3 separate regions of the Homo sapiens genome follow, and regions 2 and 3 are each linked to region 1. The links come from fine-mapping of genetic effects on gene expression. A gene starts in region 1. Each other region holds a variant in brackets. All regions are shown on one strand. Distances are from middle to middle. Region 1 holds the start of KRT8 (keratin 8). Region 2 has its middle 5.2 kb from the start of KRT18. Region 3 has its middle 18 kb from the start of KRT78.

Evidence for each region. PIP is the estimated chance that this variant, and not a neighbour inherited with it, causes the effect.
Region 2: its variant is the best candidate, but not a certain one, in a credible set for the expression of KRT8 in whole blood (TOPMed, PIP 0.89).
Region 3: its variant is the best candidate, but not a certain one, in a credible set for the expression of KRT8 in whole blood (INTERVAL, PIP 0.65).

The regions. Positions count from the first base shown.
Region 1 is chr12:52,903,511-52,906,167 of GRCh38, reverse strand. KRT8 (keratin 8) reads left to right here and starts at 1,092. Exons shown (of 8, transcript NM_002273.4): 1 at 1,092-1,510. The coding sequence starts at 1,187. RefSeq lists a silencer at 2,152-2,321.
Region 2 is chr12:52,952,943-52,955,622 of GRCh38, reverse strand. No RefSeq gene overlaps it. Among named protein-coding and RNA genes, the nearest start is that of KRT18, 5.2 kb to the right of the region's middle. The variant A/T (reference allele first, on the strand shown) is at 1,444.
Region 3 is chr12:52,866,076-52,868,755 of GRCh38, reverse strand. No RefSeq gene overlaps it. Among named protein-coding and RNA genes, the nearest start is that of KRT78, 18 kb to the right of the region's middle. The variant G/A (reference allele first, on the strand shown) is at 1,324.

The sequences.
Region 1 (2,657 bases):
GGGGATCCTAGGATCTTGGAAGGAGAGGAAGCCCCTGGGTTATGTTCAGGAAAAGTGCTGTGTTGGATCTCGCTCTTTTTTTTCTTTGAGATGGAATCTCGCTCTGTCGCCCAGGCTGGAGTGCAGTGGCACGATCTCAGCTCACTGCAACCTCTGCCTCCCGGGTTCAAGTGATTCTCCTGCCTCAGCCTCCTGAGTAGCTGGGATTACACCATGGCCAGCTAATTTTTGTATTTTTAGTAGAGATGGGGTTTCACCATGTTGGTCAGGCTTGTCTTGAACTCCTGACCTCGTGATCCGCCTACCTCAGCCTCCCAAAGTGCTGGGATTACAGGCGTGAGCCACCGTGCCTGGCCTTGGATCTCTTTTTATCTTGCACCTTCAGATGTAGAGGGACGACAGCCACTGTGTGTGTATGTGTATGTGTGTGTGTGTGTGTGTGTGTGCGCGTGTGATGTTTATTCACTCATTTATTTATTCATTCATTCATTCCACAAATATCTACCCAGACCCTCTTGGCACTGCACCAGGTGCTAGGGGTAGAACAGTAACCTGGAAAGATGAGGCAAATGGTTGATTTCAGATTCAAGGCTTTGGACTCCAGCTGTTCTGTCATCCAGCTCAGGCAGGCCCTCATAATCGCTTCAATCAGGGAGAACACAGGAGAGTTTCTCTGGGGTGTCGGCAGCTCAGAGGAGACCCAAATACTAGGAGACCCCTTTTTCCCATGCTTCCCAGTCCTCCAGTTTATTTCCCCCAGGAGGGAGGGAGACAAGACCCAGGAGTCAGGGTTGTAGTGGCTGGGCGGCCCAGGCAAGTCTGCTTGTTACAGGCACTTGTGCCAGGACAGGATTTCTTCCAGTTTCATATTCACTGAACTGCCTTTTCCTGGGTTTCTGGGGGTGGTGCTGGAGTGGGCTCCAGGGTTGGAACGGGCCCTTGGGTGGCGGCAGCTCTCTGCTGCCCCCACCTGAGTCCTGCCCGGAGGTGGCAGGTGACGGGTTAGGCCCAGCCCCCTCTGGGCCTAGCCACTCAGGTACGAGGCCTTTCCCCCCCATCCCCCGGGGCTGGGATCTCTTTTATAAAAGGCCATTCCTGAGAGCTCTCCTCACCAAGAAGCAGCTTCTCCGCTCCTTCTAGGATCTCCGCCTGGTTCGGCCCGCCTGCCTCCACTCCTGCCTCTACCATGTCCATCAGGGTGACCCAGAAGTCCTACAAGGTGTCCACCTCTGGCCCCCGGGCCTTCAGCAGCCGCTCCTACACGAGTGGGCCCGGTTCCCGCATCAGCTCCTCGAGCTTCTCCCGAGTGGGCAGCAGCAACTTTCGCGGTGGCCTGGGCGGCGGCTATGGTGGGGCCAGCGGCATGGGAGGCATCACCGCAGTTACGGTCAACCAGAGCCTGCTGAGCCCCCTTGTCCTGGAGGTGGACCCCAACATCCAGGCCGTGCGCACCCAGGAGAAGGAGCAGATCAAGACCCTCAACAACAAGTTTGCCTCCTTCATAGACAAGGTGAGGGTCCCCCCTGCGTGGCTGACTGTGCCCGCAGCCCCTTTCTCCTGGTAGTCCCGGTCCCTATGCACATCTCCAGCCCCCAGCTGGCGTCCTGCTGGGCCTCACCCGCCCTGGCGACACTCTCCCTTCCATCCTCCGACTCACCCCTCCCGTGCACCTTGGTTTGGGCTGGGTGAGGGTGGGGAGAGGGTCTGGACAGCCGGGATGAATCCTGGGGCTTCCTTCTTCCCTTTTAAACTGGAGGGTCTTGGAAGAGAGAGACAACTTAAGGGTACAGCCTAGTTCCCACCACCCCTCTCTACAAATCCCGTTCTTCCTCAGGTCATTCTGTCCCCAAATTATAAAAAATAATAGCGGTTATTGTTCTCACCCCAACCCGAGTTCTGACCGTCTTTTAAGCTATCGCCCTGCGGCAGTCCCAGCTGTTCGGGGACTACCCTCCTCCAGGTTCGCCTCTTCGCCAGCACTACCCCAAGGGCTCCCCAGTGGTGCCTTTGTGATTTTTTTTCTTTCTTTTCTTTTTTTTACATAGGGGTTTGGTGTGATTCTAGCATTCTAGGAGAAGGAAGTGGGTGTCTCGGTTCAAACGGGCAAATATTGATTGAGGCCTTTGGCGCCCGGAGGCCTGAGTGCGGGGGTCACAGAATGAGTCATACCCCGGCCCCTGCGCCGGCAGCGTGGGCGGGGCCGAGGGCGGGGTGAGGGGCTGCGGGCAGCAGTCTCGGGACGCTCTCCTCCACCTGGCGGAGCTCGGCGTCGGGGGCGGTGTGGGTGGGGTGGGGTGGGGTGGGGTGGGCTGGGGTGGGGTGGAGGAGGCGCCAGGGCCTGGCCTCGGAAAGCCCATGCAGGATTCAAAGTCTGCGGGCGTGGGACGCCCCGCCCGGGGTTTACGTCCTGTTAAGTTTATGGCTTCAGATAACGCGGTCGCCCACCAACGCCCCTCGCCCATTCAGCCCGTGTCCCTTTCTCGCGTCCTGTCCCTGCTCCGCCCCAGCGGCCTGGCTCCACTTTCACACAGCAGGAGCCAGGCCGGGTTTTGCAGCCCTGGGACTCCGCTGCCTGAGGGGCCCCGGGCCCCCGGCGGCCCCGAGGATTGGGCCCTTCACGCTGACTGGCTCCTGGGAGGCATTGTGGGAACGGGAGG
Region 2 (2,680 bases), 49 kb before region 1:
AAAATAAAAAAAGAAATCAAGATGCAGAGCTGGATAATTTTACATATATAAAACATAATGAAATGTGCTTGTATATGTCTAATTTTAAAAGGTATTTAACAGTGGTTACTTCTAGGGAGTGGAGAGGGGAGATTTTATTTTATTTAGTTTTATTTATTTATTTATTTGAGATGGAGTCTTGTTCTGTCACCCAGGCTGAAGTACAGTGGCGCGATCTTCACTCACTGCAACCTCTGCCTGCTGGGTTCAAGCAAATCTCCTGCCTCAGCCTCCCAAGTAGCTGGGACTACAGGTGTATGCCACTACGCATGGCTATTTTTTTTTTTTTTTTTTTTGAGACAGAGTCTTGCTCTGTTGCCAGGCTGGAGTGCAGTGGCTCGATCTCGTCTCACTGCAACCTCCAACTCCTTGGTTCAAGCGATTCTCCTGCCTCAGTCTCCCAAGTAGATAGGATTACAATCATGCGCCATCACGCCTGGCTAATTTTGTATTTTTAGTAGAGACAGAGTTTCTCCACTCCCAACCTCAGATGATCCACCCACCTTGGCCTCCCAAAGTGCTGGGATTACAGGCATGAGCCACCATGCCCAGCAAGATTTTAAATTTTATTTCATATATATGTGTGTGTGTGTGTATGTGTGTATGTATATATATATATATATGTATGTATATATGTATATATATACATACACACATATACACACACATATATGCACATATGTATATACACATATACACATATATACACATATACTCATATATACACATATACTCATATATACATATATACACACATATATACATACACACACATATATATATTATATATATATATTTTTTTGAGACAGAGTTTCGCTCTTGTTGCCCAGGCTGGAGTGCAATGGCATGATCTCGGCTTATTGCAACCTCCACCTCCTGGGTTCAAGCGATTCTCCTGCCTCAACTTCCCAAGTAGCTGGGATTATAGGCATGTGCCACCACACCCAGCTAATTTTGTATTTTTAGTAGAGACAGGGTTTCACCATGTTGGCCAGGCTGGTCTCGAACTCCTGACCTCAAGTTATCCGCCCGCCTTGGCCTCCCAAAGTGCTGGGATAACAGGCATGAGCCACCACACCCAGCTGCCTGGCTAATTTTTTGTACTTTTAATAGAGACAGAGTTTCACCATGTTAGCCAGGATGGCCTCAATCTCCTGACATTGTGATCTGCCCGCCTCGGCCTCCCAAATTGCTGGGATTACAGGCGTGAGCCACTGTGCCCGGCCAGCTTTTTTTTGTGAAACAGAGTCACACTCTGTTACCTAGGCTGAAATGCAGTGGCATGATCACAGCTTACTGCAACCTTTACTTCCTGGACTCAAGCAATCCTTCCACCTCAGCCTCCTGATTAAGTGGGACTACAGGTACATGTCACCATGCCTGGCTAATTTTTAAATTAAAAAA[A/T]TTTTTTTTGCCTTAACCCAACATTTTAAAAATTAACCTAGGCCGGGCGTGGTGACTCACACCTGTAATCCAGCATTTTGGGAGGCCGAGGCGGGCGGATCACGAGGTCAGGAGTTCGAGACCAGCCTGGCCAACAAGGTGACACCCCGTCTCTACTAAAAATACAAAAATTAGCCAGGCATGGTGGCGGGCCCCTGAAATCCCAGCTACTCAGGAGGCTGAGGCAGAAGAATCCCTCGAACCCAGGAGGCAGTTGCAGTGAGCCCGGATCGCGCCACTGCACTCCAGCCTGGGTGACAGAGCAAGACTCTGCCTCAAAAAAAAAAAAAAAAAAAAAAAAAATTAACCTAACCTAGGTCTTTGAGTGATGGGTGCCTTGATCTTTAGTAGTTTTGTTTTGGCAAAACTGCTGCAACGAATATCTACATGTAATCATGTTGGGTTAGGGCATTTTCACACAAGTATGAAAACAGCCAAGGAAGACACAAAGTGGCATCCAATCACTCCAAAGGGTACAAGCGGGAGGATCACTTGAGGCCAGGAGTTCCAGACCAGCCTGGGCAATATAGTGAAATCCCAACTCTATGAAAAATTCAAAAATTAGCCGGGTGTGGTGGCACTGCTGGGATTACGGATGTGAGCCACTGTGCCCAGCCTCGGTTAGTTTTAAGATGCCCATCCTTACCTATACGGGTGCTTACTCAGGGGCACCTCTTTCCTAGATGGGAACTTCCATGATCATTTACTCAACTTCTAGCCAGACCTCTAGCACCCTAAAAATCATATCTCCGTTGAGTGAATGAACAGAGTTGAGGGCACCATAGGTTTGGAGGATGAGTATGGCCTGGGGTTGGAGGAAAAAACTGTGGGTGGGAAGCCCTGGGCAGTGGGCCAAGGGCATAAAGCAGCAGGGTAGGGGAGGGCCAGATGTGTCTCCCTGTCTCCTCTGTCCTCTGTCTTTGGCCTAATTTCCTCCTCTGGTTCAGATTTCTGCTAATGATCAGTCAGGGACCTTTTGAACACCAGATCGCTTCAAGGCAAAGATTCCACAATTCCCTTGTAGGGATCCCCACAGCCTGTGACCCATCACATCTACTGCTCCCTCCTCTGTCTCTCAGAAGTGTTTCCAAGAATACAGATCCCTCTTCCTTCTACACCCCAATCTATATGAAACCCTCAGGGGTCAGAGGTGGTTTCTGCTGGATCAGGGATGGGACTGTTGGGTTAGGGCATTTGT
Region 3 (2,680 bases), 37 kb after region 1:
TAGTCCTGGGTTCAGATTCTCACTCTGCCACTATTGGTTGTGTGATCTAGGACAACCAAGCCTCAGTTTCCCCATCTATAATATGCGATTAATCAGAGGTATGCTATGTAAAGCACCTGGCATGTAGTAGTTGAACATTAAGTGATAATTCTACTTCTTTTTTTTTTTTTTTTTTTTTTGAGACAGGGTCTCCCTCAGTCTCCCAGGCTGAGTGCAGTGCAGTGGTGCGATCATGGCTTACTGCAGCCTCAAACACTTGGGTTCAAGTGATCCTCCTGCCTCAGCCTTCCAAGTAGCTAGGACTATAGGCATGAGTCACTACATCCAGCAAATTTCCTTTTTTTTTTTTTTTTGTAGAGACGTGGGGGTCTCACTTTGTTGCCCAGGCTGGTCTTGAATGCCTGGGCTCAAGTAGATTCACCTGCCCTGGTCTCCCAAAGTGCTGGGATTACTGGCGTAAGCCACTGCACCTGGCCTAATTATTCTTGATACATATAATACTACTGACAACTGAGACAACTTCCTGGAAGAATGGTCTTCTTTGGGACCCTTGAATGAAAGGAAGGGACATTCTTGACATTCAAACCCTGCCTCTAAGTGACCCTTTCCTCCTGAGATGCCCTCCCCACCCAGCCCTCTTTCCTGATTTTGTCTTCTTGAAGAGATGCGGGGTGGGGTGGAGTGCCTGCCTCCCGGGAAGGGGGTTGGTTGTGTGTTCTGAAGCTGCCACCCCCTACCCCCCACCTCTCAGTTCCCCCTGGCAGGGAGTGGCCTGCTTGCCCTAGGGTAGTGCCTGCCTGGGCAGGTAGCAAAGTGCTCCCAAAGCCTGGAGAGGGGCTTAAACTTCTGTTGGTGGTTGGGAGCTGCCCTGGGCACCCTGAGTGGCTGGGGAGAGCACGTGGGCCCAAGCGGGGAGGGAGAAATGGGGGGCGTGGCGTGCGTTCTGCTGGCATAGAGCATTCCCTGGCAGGGGTGGGGGTGCAGGGCGGGGGTGGCTGGTGCTGGTTTCCTTCCTTAGTTTCGATCAGAGGGGCGGGTTTAAGGCTGAGCTTGGTTGAGCTAGCAGCTCTTCTTCAGGAAATCTGAAAGCTTTGAAAGAGAAAAATATCGTTTGTTCCAGAGTCAGGAACACTGTTCTCTCAGCCTGGGGTACTTTTGTCTCTGTTGAAGCCCCCTTACCAAGAGATATGTGTTTGGGGTGGAGGTGGGGAAGGTGAACATTCACACACAACCTTCACACACCCGCACCTGCACATTTATAACACACCCCCATACACACATGCCTAGCTTCTGTCTTTCTCACACATACCCTTGCACACTGAT[G/A]CATGCAAGCATCCACTATACCCATCCCAGAAGGTACACATTCCCACCCCACCCTTCCACATACACCGATGCCTGGCGCACTCACACATAACTGTGTCACTTTCATAGCCCCTGTGATTTTACTGGCCCGCACATGCCCCTGCATGATCATAGATGATCTCTGCACCTTCGCACTCATGCTCCCCCCCCATTTATTTACACACATCTTACAAGCTCCCTGTATACCCTTGTCCCTACACATTTTCTTTCTTTCTCTCTGTCTCTTCCCCTCTCATCTCAGGGAGCCAGAAGGGATGGTTGTCCTCAGATGACAGTGAGAGCAAGAGGAGATCCAGGCAAGTCAGCATCTAGTAGGCCAAGCCTGGTGGGGAGTGGGGCTCAGAAGATAGTAATGATAATAATGATAATAATAATAAAATCGAGGCCGGGCGCGGTGGATCATGCCTGTAATCCCAGCACTTTGGGAGGCCAAGGCAGACAGATCACGAGGTCAGGAGATCGAGACCATCCTGGCTAACACGGTGAAACCCTGTCTCTACTACAAATACAAAAAATTAGCTGGGCCTGGTGGCGGGCGCCCGTAGTCCCAGCTACTCTGGAGGCTGAGGCAGGAGAATGGCATGAACCTGGGAGGCGGAGCTTGCAGTGAGCCGAGATAGCACCACTGCACTCCAGCCTGGGTGACAGAGCGAGACTCTGTCTCAAAAAAAAAAAAAAAAAAAAATCGAATAGTTGGTGGGCACTGCTGTGCTAAGCACTGTTCTGAGCACTCTGCACGTGTCATCTTGGTTAACACACACAACAGCCCTAGGATATAGGAATGATTATCCCTCCTTATTTATTTATTTATTTTTGAGACAGAGTTTCGCTCTTGTCGCCCAGGCTGGAGTGCAATGGCGTGATCTCAGCTCACCGCAATCTCTGCTTCCCGGGTTCAAGTGATTCTCCTGTCTCAGCCTCCGGAGTAGCTGGGATTACAGGCATGTACCACCATGCCTGGCTAATTTTGTATTTTTAGTAGAGATGGGGTTTCTCCATGTTGGTCAGGCTGGTCTCGAACTTCTGACCTCAGGTGATCCACCCGCCTCAGCTTTCCAAAGTGCTGGGATTACAGGCATGAGCCACCACGCCCGGATTTTTTGTTTTTCTTTTAGACTGAGTCTTGCTCTGTCACCCAGGTTGGAGTGCAGTGGGGCGATCTTGGCTCACTGCAACCCGAGCCTCCCAGGTTCAAGTGATTCTTGTGCCTCAGTCTCCTGAATAGCTGGGGTTACAGGTGCCTGCCACCACGCCTGGCTAATTTTTGTATTTGTAGTAGAGATGGGGTTTTGCCATGTTGGCCAGGCTGGTCTCGAAC